Linked DNA regions of Homo sapiens. The protein of the gene in region 1 interacts with the protein of each later gene in a biochemical or structural test. Each region holds a gene or a part of one and is shown on either strand. Other genes may lie near its edges.

Region 1 (7,022 bases):
CCTTATCTTTTCATTGCAGGATGACAGACCAAAGTTAAACAAGCCTCCGGTAAGTGTGACCATCTCAAGTATCTCTGGATGTTCTCGTTGTATTTAATACTTGTCAAACTGAAGGCAGAGGGTTTTTATTTACCTGACTGATGCCAGCACAGGTCTTTCTAGATAAATGAATATGTAACCTACTGGCTCAGCAAGTATTTTTTATTTACGGAAACCTGTCAGTATGATTTGTTAGGATGGCGTGTGTGTAATTTTTTTAAGGCTGTCAGTAAACTACTTTTTTCATCATAATTATCAATATATACCATTTGAAGAGCTACTTTTTATGGTAGCACGTGCTTCTGATCTAAAAGATTTGACACAAGCCTTATTTTCAGAGAACTTAAAATCTGAATGGATAGTGGTTTTATTACTTAAATCTTTAAGGGTGTGTCTCATGTCTTCTTCATCTTTAAGTCTCTTGGGCATAGTAGGTGTTCAATAAATACTTGTCAGATGAATTTAATGAAATTAAATAATACCCTTTTGACTTACTTTTCCTTGGGAAAGGAAAATAACTCTGGCAATACTAGTTTTATGTTCTGATTCACTAGCCTTTCTCTCTGAACTGACCATCTCACTTATATTTGAAGATAAATGTAGGGTGAGAATGGAAGAGCACAGCCTAAGTTCCTGAAAAGTACAAGTAGGCAAAATAGTTTCTAGTGTCTAATTAAAGGACTACAGGGGAAAGTTTTGCTTAAATCAAATGACAAAAAAGAAAGTATAATTTTTCGTTTTGGTGTAAATTCTTGGTTTCATTAGAGAAAGTGCAACAGCAAGACCCCACTGAGCTTGTGTCGAGAACTGGTGAGCTGATTTTTTGAGCTGTTGCTGCCAAGACATCATCTTTAATCTACAAAAGGATCAAAGCAGTTAATCCAATAATATAAGCATAAAGGCCACATTTACCTCAACATCCCTGATAGTACAATAAAAGTCTTGTGTAATACTATTTAGTACAAAGCAATTTTTTTTATATTCTCTCCTTATTCAAGAAAGACTTAAGTTCAATGTGAATGATATGAGTACTTCCAGGAGATAAAAAGTTGACTTCAGAATTTCAATGGCCTCTGTGACAATTGCTTAGAATCCTTGCTGTGAGTTCATTTGACTTTAGCATCTTTTTTGAGGCTACTTTTTGGACAGCTGAAATTCTGTGTTGCATAAAGTTTTTCCTTTTTCTCTGAAGTCTCTTAAGGGAAGAATATATATTTTTTTTATCATGTGTTCAGCATGTTAATCATTTTGGTATAAGTCATTTAGCTATAGCAAAACAAAGGTTTAAGATTCATTAGATGAACTTAGATGACCGCAGGGCCAGCCGTCTCGCTAACCATAAAGACTACAAGCAGAAAACACTTGTAGGTGTAAGATTGTACATGTGTCTCCTGCCATAACTACTTTCAGTTTAAAGGACAAAGACTTTCTTCCTTATTTGCTTTTAGAACACGTGTATTACAGCCTATACTCTGTTGGATTAATTGCCCATTACTATTTATTGTTCTTATTTTCTATTTTAAAGTGGCAGTTACTTTGATACTGAGAATATTTTGGGAACAGAGCAAGTTTATGTGGTAAATTCTGGGACTTTAGCTTTTAGTATCAAAGAAAGCTTTCCTGACAACATTGAGGCACAGCCCTTTGTGCGTTAAGACATGGCTTACTTCATTCCAGCATTAGCAGTTGATACTTGATCAGCTTGTTAGATGTAGAAGGTCTCACTGAAGTTTGAGAATCACACTAACTTTTTAAAGTAGATTTTTGTTTGTTTGTTTTTGAGACGGAATTTTGCTCTTGTCACCCAGGCTGGAGTGCAATGGCGTGATCTCGGCTCACTGCAACATCCACCTGCTGGGTTCAAGCAATTCTCCTGCCTCAGCCTCCCGAGTAGCTGGGATTACAGGTGCCTGCCACCATGCCCAGCTAATTTTTGTATTTTTAGTAGAGATGGGGTTTCACCATTGTTGGCCAGGCTTGTCTTGAACTCCTGACCTCAGGCATTCGCCTGCTTCAGCCTCCCAAAATGCCGAGATTACAGGTGTGAGCCACGGCACCCAGCCTAAAGTAGATGTTTTTACTCTCTTCAGAGATTTTACAGATTAACTAACTTCTGAGTATTTTTTAAACAACTCTTCTTTATTGTGACTTTGCTTCAGTGAGAGCAGAACCGGAAGAATGTGGGACAAGAACTTGCTGGCCTTTTTGAGAGGCCATAAGCAGATGAAATGAAAGGAAATACATGAGCATTTTTCTGGATGTATCTTTCTTGTGCTTTTGGTTTAGTGGAAGTAAAGAGTGTCCTTAGGGATTTCTTTTGTCATGTGTCTGTATAACCATCGGCCGATCTCCAGGTTGAAGAATGTACACTGTGGTCTAAAGTTTTGAGATGTTGCCTGCTTAAAATATCTAGTTGAATAGTGAAATAAAATGCAGTAAAGATTATTAGCTTGAACCTGCCCTAAGGAAAGCATAGTGTTAAGTTACCAAATTAAGATATTTGTAGACTTAGAAATCATGCATTTTAATCTAACATAAATGTTTCTATCACATTTGCTTACATAGAGAATATTAGTCGTAGCAATACCCCTTCTTGGTTATAGTTTTGAAAGCATTCTTGTAGAAGTTATTTGGTCCTCACAGTGTCTCCATGTTAGACCTGCCAAGGGAGGTAGGTACATTGCAGCTGGGAAGTGTTAAGCACCCGGCTCACAGACGTGCTCCAGAACCATCTAGCACCCATCTCAGGCTGGTCAGTTGCAGTCCCTTAAGCTTCTCCTCTAGGTTCTGGGCTTGCCGTGTTAGACATCACTCTGTCAGTATTTTAAGGGAGATAGGCTTCCCACTAAAGTTTACGTTAGATGAACTTATAAATGAGATGACTCTGATTCACAAAAGCTTGTTGGGCTTTGCATGCTTTTCATAATTTATGGAGCTTACTGTAATTTACACTGATTCACATGACTTTTATAAGTCATTATGCATGACATACTTATTTTACTTTTTTGAGACGGGGTCTCACTCTGTTGCCCAGGCTGCAATGCAGCGGCATGGATCTGGACTCACTGCACCATCCACCTCCCGGGGTCAAGCAATCCTCCCACCTCAGCCTCCCGAGTAGCTGGACCATAGGCACACAGCACTGTGCCCAGCTAATTTTTGTATTTTTCTGTAGAGACAGGGTTTCACCATGTTGCCCAGACTGGTCTCGAACTGCTGGACTCAAGCAACCCGCCAATCTCGGCCTCCCAAAGTGCTGGGATTACAGGCCTGAGCCACCATGCCCAGACTTTGACACACTGATTTAATTGTTAACCTCTTTTTACTGAAGTTGAACCTCGAAGTCATGGAGTGAACAGGTGGCAGAGCCAATCATAAAAACCATATTCTTTCTCCTTGTTCATTGCTGACATTCTTTGATAGTCACGTCCCTAAACCCAAGTGAGGCCCTCAGAGCACTGACCACTAAAGACCAATTACTTTTCCATCAAAGTGCAAAGTGGTAATTCAAACTTCCTTTAACTGTCAAGCATCCTGGGCTACAGAGCCAAGAAGATAATCAACAATCAAAAGGTGATACGATTATTTCAAGTTCCCCTCTTTAGAGTTCATGGCTGTTGCTGATGATGCTGGTGCCAGAGTAGTGTTTTAACCTTAGCGCTCTCCCATGGTAACCACAAAGGCAGCAGGAGGGCAGGTGGGAGGTTCCAGAGTTGTCAGCACGTTGGTGAAATGCCTGCCCTCATTTTAACGACGCCGTGGATGTTTGTGTTTGCCTTCCGTTGGCTGTTTCAAACTTAACTTTCTAGTTTGACAATCATATTTTACCTTCAGTGATTCTTTTGTTTCAGAACTGATTGTGTCCTCTAATAGCTAACTAATATTTTTGTATATTTTGATTATTTCTAGTAATTTTTGTTAATTTTATTCATATATACACAATTTGGAAAATCCTCTTGCTGTAGTTATGAATACTTTTTATAGATGCTAAGATTTTAAAATTGCTGGAATAGATAATAAATTTGCAATTTTATTTTTAAATGACTTACCTTTTTTCCCCTACTGTGTCAGGAACCTTAAAGGCGGTGTTTCAAGGTTGGTGGGTCTCATAACTGCTTTGCTTGCTTTTCCCTGAAAGGGGTCTGTCTTTTCACGGGAGTTTCTCTAACGTGCTTTGCAGAGTGATGCTTGCCTTACTGCAGGCCGCTGATTGTTTTGCTAATGCTTTTTATCTTTGCTTTGGGAAACTGCAGATCTGAAGCTGTCTTATTTATGGCAACTTCTGTTTGAGGCCCTAATGCTTATGTTGGTGTGGAACATCAAAAGAATGCTTCTTAACCCATTTTCAAGCCCCAAAAAGTTGATATTTCACTAGACCTTAGCTTTTCAGCTGTTGGAGAAGTATGCGTTTTTCCAGAACCATTGTCCATTCACTTTAGTGCTACTCAAAAGAGCTGCTCCCAGAAAGCTCTGGAGGATAAAAACAGGGCTTCCTTATCTGGGGATTTGCTGTTAGGCTGACAGTGACCAGCTGGTGACAAGTGTGACGCCGGGCACAGCAGTCCTGTGAGGCTGGTCTGGTGTCTTGCTGGTTCCGTCTGGTCAGAATTAAAGCAGCCCCCCGGGAAAGTTGGCCTAGAATGTAGAACTTAAAATGGCAGTCCTCTTTTTTCTTTTTGGTTCACATATATTTAATGTAATTTAGGTACACTTTTTTACATCTGTCAGATTTGAATGAAATAACTGATGTTTTTATTGAACATTGTGTTCATGCTTTTGAAGAATTAAACTGCTTTTTCTAAAGGTGACGTGGGATTGTGTGTATGTGAACATGAATGTCTGTTTTCAGTTTCTGCATTATTTAGATGCCTAGCGTGTGCAAGATATTTTATGTAGCATATTAATTTTGAATGTTTTTAAATTATTGAGGTTATGTCCTTAAGTAAATATAATGATTAAAATGTTTTACTCTGGAAGAAAACAAAGTTAGGCATTTTAGTGAAAAGAAGTTTATAATTTTCCCTTTCGACATCTTCTGAAGAATGCATTGCATAAAATATTGTGTTCTTATTTTCAAACAGGATTTTAGTCAATGAAATAAGTTCAGCATTCCCTTGAACTTACTTTACTTTTTCCTCTCGTGTTTCAGGAAACTCTTATCACTACTATTGATTCTAGTTCCAGGTATGTGGTAGCTTTCTTTTAAAGCAGTAGTGGGTGGGAGGGCTCATGGGTCCAGGTTGGACAAGGTGCGTCCCCCACCTTCTGGGTTCCTGGGCCTGACACTGTGCTGTCTCAGCAACCTTCTGCTGAAGGCCAGACTGTTCAGAGCACTCAGCCTCAAACTTTCAGGTAGCCGACTGTGAACACTGTCCACAGCCACGTGATCTAGCTGGCTGGCTGCATCCACCCCAAGGAACAAACAGAACAATTGCATTTCCTTTTCCCCCAGGGCAGCATCTTAGGCGGCCAGTCCCACAGCACCTCCCTGGCTCATCCAAGCAGACATTTCCTTCCTTTCAATCCATGTCTGTTTCTTAAACTCTAGTGATTACATTTCCCTAAACATGGGTCAGTTTTCCTTTGTCATTTTTATTAGCTTTAAAGTTGAAGCTGGTAATCTATGTGTAGCACGACTCAATTGTTCTAGGCACCAGATTTGTTTATGATAGTCCAAGTGCACATTAACATCTTTGGCAGCTCTACCATATTGACTTCAGTAGTAGCCACTTTTTTGGACCCAAGCTCAAAACCACACATTTGTATTTCATCCTGTCAAATTTAACTGCCTCAGTCCGTTGGTGTTCTGGAATATTCCCTGCCTGCAGGCAGTATTTCACCTTACTCTTCATTAACAAGCCAGTTTCTTTCTAAAGTGAAATTGAAAAACCCCACCAAACCCCACTAAGACAAAAGTTACACTTGTAATTCTTATGAAAGTTTCACTTGTAATCCTTATGAAAGGATTATACTTGTAGTCCCTATGAAACACATATGTATACCAAGTCTATTTCTAAAGCCTACACATTAATTTCCATTTTTCTAAGAAATTAAGTCAAAGATCAAAATCTAAAGATTCAAATCTAATTTAAAGATTCAAATAGAGGCCAGGCGCGGTGGCTCACGCCTGTAATCCCAGCACTTTGGGAGGCCGAGGCAGGTGGATCACGAGGTCAGGAGATCGAGACCATCCTGGCTAACACAGTGAAACCCTGTCTCTACTAAAAATACAAAAAAATTAGCCGGGCATGGTGGCGGGCGCCTGTAGTTCCAGCTACTCGGGAGGCTGAGGCAGGAGAATGGTGTGAACCCAGGAGGCGGAGCTTGCAGTGAGCCAAGATCGTGCCACTGCACTCCAGCCTGAGCAACAGAGCAAGACTCTGTATCAAAAAAAAAAAAAAGATTCAAATAGAAATTATAGCTCATCCCTCCTTTGTCCCTGATTTGATTTGTAATCTGTAATTTATAGATCGAAATTCTATGCATCAGGACTGTAAATTTAGGCTTTTTTTTTTTTTTTTTTGGTGAATTTAGACCTGTGGACCACACACCAAGTAGTCTGGCCATTCTGTTTCTTAACCCTTTAAATCCACTTCAGCACAGGTAGTAAAGATTAGATTTTCCAAACCTAAGCTTAAAGCTGTGGTGTTAATGGCAGTGTTAATCATCACAGGGCCCATACTCTTCAACTTTACAGCTGGTGGGGCATTCATTTTTTGGTTTGTTTATTTTTGTTAGTTTGTTTTTGAGACAGTCTCGCTCTATCACACAGGCTGGAGTGCAGTGGCGTGATCTCGGCTCACTGCAACCTCTGCCTCCCAGGTTCAAGCGATTCTCCTGCCCCAGCCTCCCAAGTAGCTGGGATTACAATTAGCTACTGCCACCACGCCCAGCTACTTTTTGTATTTTTTGGTAGAAGGTTTTTACTATGTTGGCCAGGCTGGTCTCAAACTTCTGACCTCAAGTGATCCGTCTGCCTTGGC
Region 2 (7,875 bases), on another chromosome or scaffold:
CTAATACTTCTCAGGTCATACTCACCTGAGAAGCACAGTGCCAGGCACACTCATCTTTTTCAAGGTGGTCAACCAGAAAGCAGTCAGTTCACTGCCTCTGTACGTGAAGTATCTCTGAGGAAAAACCCATTAAGCCTGGTGTTCACTATGGCAGGCCTGCCTGGAACTCATCTTTCATGAGTCATGTGCAAACTCCTCCAACTGATGGTTCTGGATCCTTGCAGACCTTCCCCCTCCGGTGTGACTGAGGGATGGAAAACTGGAGGAAGAAGAGAGGCTGAAGGAAGAGGTTGCCAGACACTGATTCAGCTGTGAAGCTGCTAGCCCCACACAGTTGGCTCCAGAGAGGCAAACTACAAAAATGTGGCTGAAAAAGATGATGTGCATAAAAGAATCCACATGCCTCATATGTACTTTCAGCTAAAAGACACAGAGGGACCTTCCAAAGTCCAGGTACTTTCCTGTTGATAGCAAATGGTGCAGTATGGCATATAAGATAAGTAATGATAAAACGTCCCGGAGAGTTGTATTAAGACCTTGTTTACTCCTCTTTAGAGGTTAGCCTTCAAGGCAGTATAGGTTCCAAACATTTTGTAAACATCCAGTGACTTATAAAATGTGATAAAATAAAACTGAGAAATTACATGAAGGGCAGGGTTTGGAGGACTCAGCAGGGGCAGCATGAGCAGGCCCAGTCATACATTTGGTTCCCTGCCCCAGAACAGTTAGTGGAAGTGCGTGCACCACCTGCCAAAGCCAGGGTGGCCTTGGGTATTCCCACTTCAGTTCCCTCCTTTGTTGTCACAGCCATGTCAAATCAATGACACTAATCTCTGCTCCTGAACTTTAAACACATTACCTGACCTCTCAGGTGAGGACAAGCTATTGAGTTAATGTGTCAGCAGCATTGGCCCCCAAGGAAAGATCTTGGTGAGTGTCTAGATTCACATGGTACCATGTCAAGGCAGATGCTGTGCTGGGCGAACTCTTTAGTTTCTTTCCAGCTCCCCTCTGGTAGAGTAATGCAGCCTTTGGGTCCAGTGAAGAGACTAACAGAAAAGCCAGTCATCTATTGCATGTAATTGTGTTGGCCTAAGGAGGGCCTGGTCTACACTGCATTTTCTGACTCCTGGGCTGCACCAGCATTGTCTAAGGCTAAGGCATTGTCTGCCTGGCTGCCCGAGTCTGTAGTGACCGGCCCACAACATGGCAGACCACACACAGAGTGACACAGATGGTGCCCCTGTGTCCAGGCTTGAAGCAGATGAGATGCCAACCTGTTTGCCCTTTGAGTGACCTCCACGGTGGGGCCAGGACCCATGAATATCTCTTTGGAGTTCTACCCTGAGAGCTGAGGAATATTTTCTCACTTCATATGGATCCTACCTGGAAGCCTTTGCTATCGTCACTGGCTCACAGTCTTGCTTACTCCCCTGTCCTGAGAGTTTAAGACAATCTGCTAAGCAGGTATATTCGAAAAGGAGTTATTAAAATAAATGGCCGGACAGGTATATTTGAAAAGACGTGCAGTCTTGTCTTAGAGGTATACATTTGTGCATTAGACTCATATTCCTGACATTCAGGAAAGGTGACATTATTTTACACACACTTATTGTCACAAATACTGAACTAACAGCCCTGTTTTACCATCCAGAAGGAACATGCTGGAAATAGTCTATCTCCAAAAAATTCTGGTTTAAAAATGAATGAATTTAAACCATATCAATTCATTTAAAAATGTTAGACAATGGAAACCATGTTGCCACAACTCACTGAATTCCTAAGCTTTCTGTGAAAGAATTAAAATGAGGTTTATAGTGTCTATTTTCATGTCATTGTGGTTCCCTGCTCTTAATAAAAGTCAAATTGAGGTAGAAGTTAATGGGACAGGTGGAGCCTCCACTACCCACAGTGGAAAGTAACTCTTCTCTCCACCTGCTCTAGGATGCCAGGAATCCCACCAGTGAGAGGGTTTGCCCTCCTGTACTGTAACATAAAGGGGAAAAATATGTAAAATCCAAATTGGCTTTCATGGCTCCTGCCTTTTCAGGCTGCTAGTAGATTCCCATTAGGTGAGAAACAAAGCTCTATATTAATCCTAGCCTCCCAGAGACGGGAGGAAAAAGATTAAAGCAAAGAATAAATCCTCGAAACTTCCTCCAGGTCTCCTTTGCTCTAGAGGTTAATCATTGCAAGATAAACCATCCTGTGTATGACAGGGTGGAGGAGTGACTCATAGGAGGGAGGGGATTTTCAGGGGCATGGCACAGGAAAGAGGGAAGAGCCAGGGGACAGCTTCCCATGAAGTCTTGGTGTCCCCTGGTGCGTTATGTAAATGATATCCTGGGTTGGAAGGCGGGGGAGCAGGAACCAGGTCTACAGGGGCAATACAGCTACACATCCCTTCCAGCAGACACAGAACCCAGAAAGCGAATTAATGAGACAAAAATGCAAGCCACTCCTTCCTGTACCCAGAATCCCCAGAGCCTGGGAAGGGGATGAGGATCACACTGTCCATCATGATCAGCAGTTTGTAATCTGCCGCTGCCATGTTTTCATTGATTAGTCTTCGTCAGATCTAAGCTAATCAAATCATTCCCACTACCAAATGCTGTCCCTAAACCCTCCTAGTCACCAAAATTAGAAGGTGGATGGGAGAAATGCTTATTTATTCATTCATAGATCTGCATAAGATAATAATAACTTCTATGCGTTTGTAGCGTCCAACACTTCAGCTACTTCTCCTTGAACATCTCTTTTGATCTTCAAAACAGATAAGGGAAAAGGGGCCCGATTAGCACCCCAAGTCCAAGGAAACAAAGAGAGGAGTTTGGACAGTTACTCACAGATAGAGGAGCACCAGGCTGACAGCCAGGAGAAGCCAGGTTTCCACCGCCAAATTTGGGATGAGGTCCATCGCCACTTTCCTTCTTCAACTGTGTTCTGTGAGTCTTCCTTTTAGCTGAGTGCTGCTGTTTGCTGGGCTGTTTGCCTGGAGCTTCCCTGCCCTGCACAGCAGTCTTCAGCCAAGCTGCTGAAAGATTTATGTGCTGGAGAAGGAGGCAGGGCTATAGCTGCAGCCAATAGCAAAGAATCGCACACACCCCTTTGCTGACCTCTTTTGAGTTCATGTTCTATGAGGAATCATGAAAAGCTTAATCAGTGTTATCGGGGAGTCCAAGGGTTCTGGGTTCTTATCAGAAACTCAAGTGGAGCCATTGGCATGAAATCTATTAACCCTCCTCTCACCTGCCCCTCCATGGCTGCCTTCATTCTAGAATAATTGAAATCCATCCTCACAAGCCACACCTACACATCTTTACCCACGAAATTCCCTCTGCCTGGAGTGTACCTGTGCCCTCTAGATGACTCCTACGTATCCTTCCAAGCCCAGCCAGACAGACCCCTTCTGCTAAAATTTTTCCTTACCAACCTCCTCACACAAATGTAACCATTTCCTCCTCTGGGTGCCTCCTATCCCCCTCACACAGTCCTATTGTCCTCTTTTCTCTCTACCACCATTGTAAGTTTCTATGCCTGTTTCCCTTAGCAGAGGTGAGCTCCTCAAGGGCACAGTCTGGTATTATTTACTTTCATGACCCTGGTTCCTAGCAGGGTACTGTACACATGGTGGGTAACCAGGAATGTTGGTGGAGTTGTCTTGGGTGAGATTGCTGGGCGTCTCATCCCCTCTGACTCTGTGGTGATAGCAATAGACTAATGGTTGCTTGGGACTCAAATGCAGCCACACTGTGTCCCAACTAATAAAGTTGGTCTTGTTCTGCAAAGGAAAATAATAGAAATCATGTTCTGCCACTTAATTCCTCATAAGGTAACATAACATGAAGAGACTTACCTGTTGAGAGTTGTACTGAATCTGTCAAGGAAGATACTGTGTATCAGAAGAACACCCAACCAGTTTGTGCCTCTCATCTATTCATTCCTGTATTAAAGCATTCATGATGTATTTTAAAAGCTGTGCTCCCAGTACTTGGGTACAACACTGACTAAGGCCCAGACATTAGCTCAGTTGTTTTGATTTGTAGATCCCACAAGTATGTGAGAACTTGCAATATCTGTGTTTCTGTGCCTGGCTTATTTCACTTAACATGATGACCTCCAGTTCCATCCATATTATTACAGATAACAGGATCTCATGCTTTTTTCATGGCTGAATTGTGCTCCATTGTGTATAATTGGAGTACTTTCTTTATCCATTCATCTGTTGATGGACACTTAGGTTGCTTCCAAATCTTGGCATTTGTGAATAGTGGCTATTGTGAATATTGGAGTGATGTTATCTCTTCAATATATGATTTCCTTTCTTCCAGGTATATACCCAGCATGGGGATTTCTGGATATTGTGGTAGCTCTATTTAATGTTAATTTTAATGTTTTGAGGAACCTCCAAATTGTTCTCTATAGTGGTTGCACTAATTTACACCAACAGTGTACAAGGGTTCCCTTTTCTCCACATTCTCGCTGGCATTTGTTGTTGCCTGTCTTTTGGATAAAAACCATTTTAGCTGGGGTAAGATGATATCTCATTGTGGTTTTGATTTGCATTTCTCTAATGACCAGTGATGTTGAGCACCTTATCATATGCCTATGTGGCATTTGTATGTCTTCTTTTGAAAAATGTCTATTCAAATTTTGCCCATTTTTTGATTGGATTATTAGATTTTTCCTTACAGAGTTGTTTGAGCGCTTCATGTATTCTGGCTATTAATCTGTTGTCAGAGTGTGACTTTGAAAATATTTTCTCCCATTCTGTGGTTTGTGTCTTCACTTTGTTGATTGCTTTCTTTGTGGTACAGAAGCTTTTTAACTTGATCTGATCCATTTGTCCATTTTTGCTTTGGTTGCCTGTGCTTGTGGGGTAGTTCTTCAGAAAGTTTTGCCCAGACCAATATCCTGAAGAGTTTCCACAATGTTTTCTTGTAGCAGTTTCATCGTTTGAGGTCTCAGATTTCAGTTTTGTTTTTTGTTTTTTTGTTTTTTGTTTTTCTGACAGAGTCTCACTCTCTTGCCCAGGCTGGGGTGCATTGTCATGATCTCAGCTCACTGCCACCTCCGCCTCCTGGGTCCAAGTGATTCTGCCACCTCAGCCTTCTGTGTAGCTGGGACTACAGGCACGCACCAGCATGTCCAGCTAACTCTTGTATTTTTTGGTAGACATGTGGTTTCACCATGTTGGCCAGGCTGGTCTTGAACTCCTGACCTCAAGTGATACACCCGCCTCGGCCTCTCAAAATGCTGGGATTACAGGCATGAGCCACGGCACTCAGCCAGGTTTCAGTCTTTCGTCCACCTTGATTTGATTTTTGTGTCTGGTGAGATACAGGGTTCTAGTTTCATTATTCTGCATGTTAAAATCCAGCTTTCCCAGCACCAGAAGAGACTGTCTTTTCCCCCAGTGTATGTTCTTGACAACATTGTTGAAAATGAGTTCACCGTAGGTGTGTGGAATTGTTTCTGGGTTCTCTATTCTATTTCATTGGTCTGTGTCTGTTTTTATACAAGTACCATACTGTTTTGGTTATTATACCTCTGTAGTATAATTTGAAGTCAGGTAATATGATTCCTCCAGTTTTGTTCTTTTTGCTGAAGGTAGCTTTCGCTATTCTGGGTCTTTTGTGGTTCCATACAAATTTTAGGGTTTTTTTTTTTCTATTTCTTTGAAGAATGCCATTGGTATTTTGAGAGACTGCATTGAATCTGTGCATTGCTTTGGGTAGTATGGACATTTTTAACAATATTAATGCTTACAATATATAAACATGGAATATCCTTCTTTTTTGTGTCTTCTTCAATTTCCTTCATCAGTGTTTTACAATATTAATTGTAGACATCTTTCTCTTAAGTTAATTCCCAGGTATTTAGTTTTATTTGGGGTTATTGTAAATGGGATTACATTTTTTATTTTTGCCAGATTGTTCACTGTTGGCATGCAGAAATGCTACTGGTTTTTGTATGTTGATTTTGTATCCAGCAACATTACTGAATTTGTTTATCAGATCTAATAGTTCTTTAGTGGAGTCTTTAAGTGTTTCCATATATCATTTGGAAATCATTTGGAAATATCATTTGGAAATCATTTTCAAATATCATTTCCAAACATTACTTGGAAATCATTTGAACATCTTCTTGCTTCCTGGCACAAAATGTATCCTAGGCTTATCTTGAACATTCTTAATCCTGGCCCTGGAATCAGCCATTTCTCTAAAAAGCTCTGGTTCCTTTCAGTGGAAAATGGTATTAATAAGCCAAGATCTGGCCACTAAGTGTGCTCATTGCTATTGAAATGCCATTGTTACCTAGCCCTATCAGTGGAGAGAAGTAGGGAGTATATGTTTTTTTGTACACACACACAAACACATACATACATTTATGTCTATCTAATTATCTTGTCCTCTTGTTATCTTTTTATCACCTATCTAACCATTTATCTATCTAGAAGGGTATGAATATACATGGATACATCCATTTTAATCTAATTTCATAGGATTCCTGCTAGTTTTCTCCCTTTCTGAATCCATGACTCTTTTCTGCAAAAGTGACACACCTGGCTTCCAGTATACTTTATTTACTTATTTCATCAATCCCCTTTATGTAGTGAAACCTCACCCATCCCTTCCCACTCATGGATGCCCTCCTCACCTCATGCCCTAAATATGTTCTCCATGCCCTGTTTAGGCTCTGGCTGCTTTTTCAGGCCACCCCTCTGTGTCGACATTTTCTCTGCTTGCTTGGACTCCCACACACAGGCCGGGCTGTTTCTCCACGTGAACACCTACTTGATCCTCACCCTACTAGGTCTCTGACTTGGAACCATCATGACACTCTCTTTTCTACCTTAATGTGTGGCCACCATCTGGCTGCCACCCACCTAATGACTTTAGGATAAGTTACTCAGGAAGGGAAAGTAAAGAAAGAAGTGGGAACAGACAAGGAATGAGTGTGTTTAGCCTGTTGCCCAATCAATTGACCAATTGACTGTTTCTTATTAAGTGTTCATTGCAGTAAGACAGTTGGGAGTTGAGAATGGAATGCAAGAGGTGTAAGAAAACATGTTTCCCATCTCCCAGAAATATCAGGGGAGATGGTTTGAAAACATTAAATCAAAACTAATAATATAATAAGGGATTCAGTTGTATGTTATAAAATGTATGTGCTTCAAAAAGGCATAATTTTTTTTTTTTTTTTTTGAGATGGAATCTCACTCTGTCACCCAGGCTGGAGTGTAATGGTGCGTCTCGGCTCACTGCAACCTCTGCCTCCAGGTTCAAGTGATTCTCCTGCCTCAGCCTCCTGGGTAGCTGAGATTATAGGTGCATACCACCACACCTAGCTAATTTTTGTATTTTTAGTAGAGATGGGGTTTCACCATGTTGGTCAGGCTGGTCTCGAACTCCTGACCTCAGGTGATCCACCCACCTCGGCCTCCCAAAGTGCTGGGATTACAGGCATGAGCCACTGTGCTTGGTCAAAAAAGGCATAATTAAACTATGAATGTTCTTTCTAAGCAATGGGCAAAGTCACAGTGGATTAATTCTCACCTATGTTAATAATCACATTGGAGTTCTGACAAATGCCCCACACCAACAATGGTTACAATGATCACATATATTTACTTGTTGGTTCTCATTCATTCAGTTCTATAGATTTCTCCTTAATGTTCAGGAAAGTATCCGATGATACTTTTGTAAGAGGTTTTTATTGATTTGCTTAATATAAACTTATTATAGAATGCTCCAGATAAAACAGATGATATAAATGTCACTGTTAGAGCCATCAAAATAATTCTTATTTTCATTAATAATTTTGGATGAAATTATTGAGAAATTTTGATTCTTTTATCAGAGCTCAGGAGGA

Evidence for each region. Proteins that work in one complex are often made in the same cells at the same time.
Region 2: the proteins of CYB5A (region 1) and CYP3A5 interact in a biophysical measurement, tested with the Homo sapiens proteins (one study listed by IntAct).

The regions. Positions count from the first base shown.
Region 1 is NC_000018.10:74,253,942-74,260,963, reverse strand, and holds part of CYB5A (cytochrome b5), read left to right. Parts: intron 1-19; coding exon 20-49; intron 50-4,110; coding exon of another isoform or gene 4,111-4,119; exon of another isoform or gene 4,120-5,025; intron 5,026-5,188; coding exon 5,189-5,223; intron 5,224-7,022.
Region 2 is NC_000007.14:99,676,980-99,684,854, forward strand, and holds the start of CYP3A5 (cytochrome P450 3A5), read right to left. Parts: upstream 3,018-7,875; 5' UTR 2,918-3,017; coding exon 2,847-2,917; intron 1-2,846. UniProt on the Homo sapiens protein: A cytochrome P450 monooxygenase involved in the metabolism of steroid hormones and vitamins.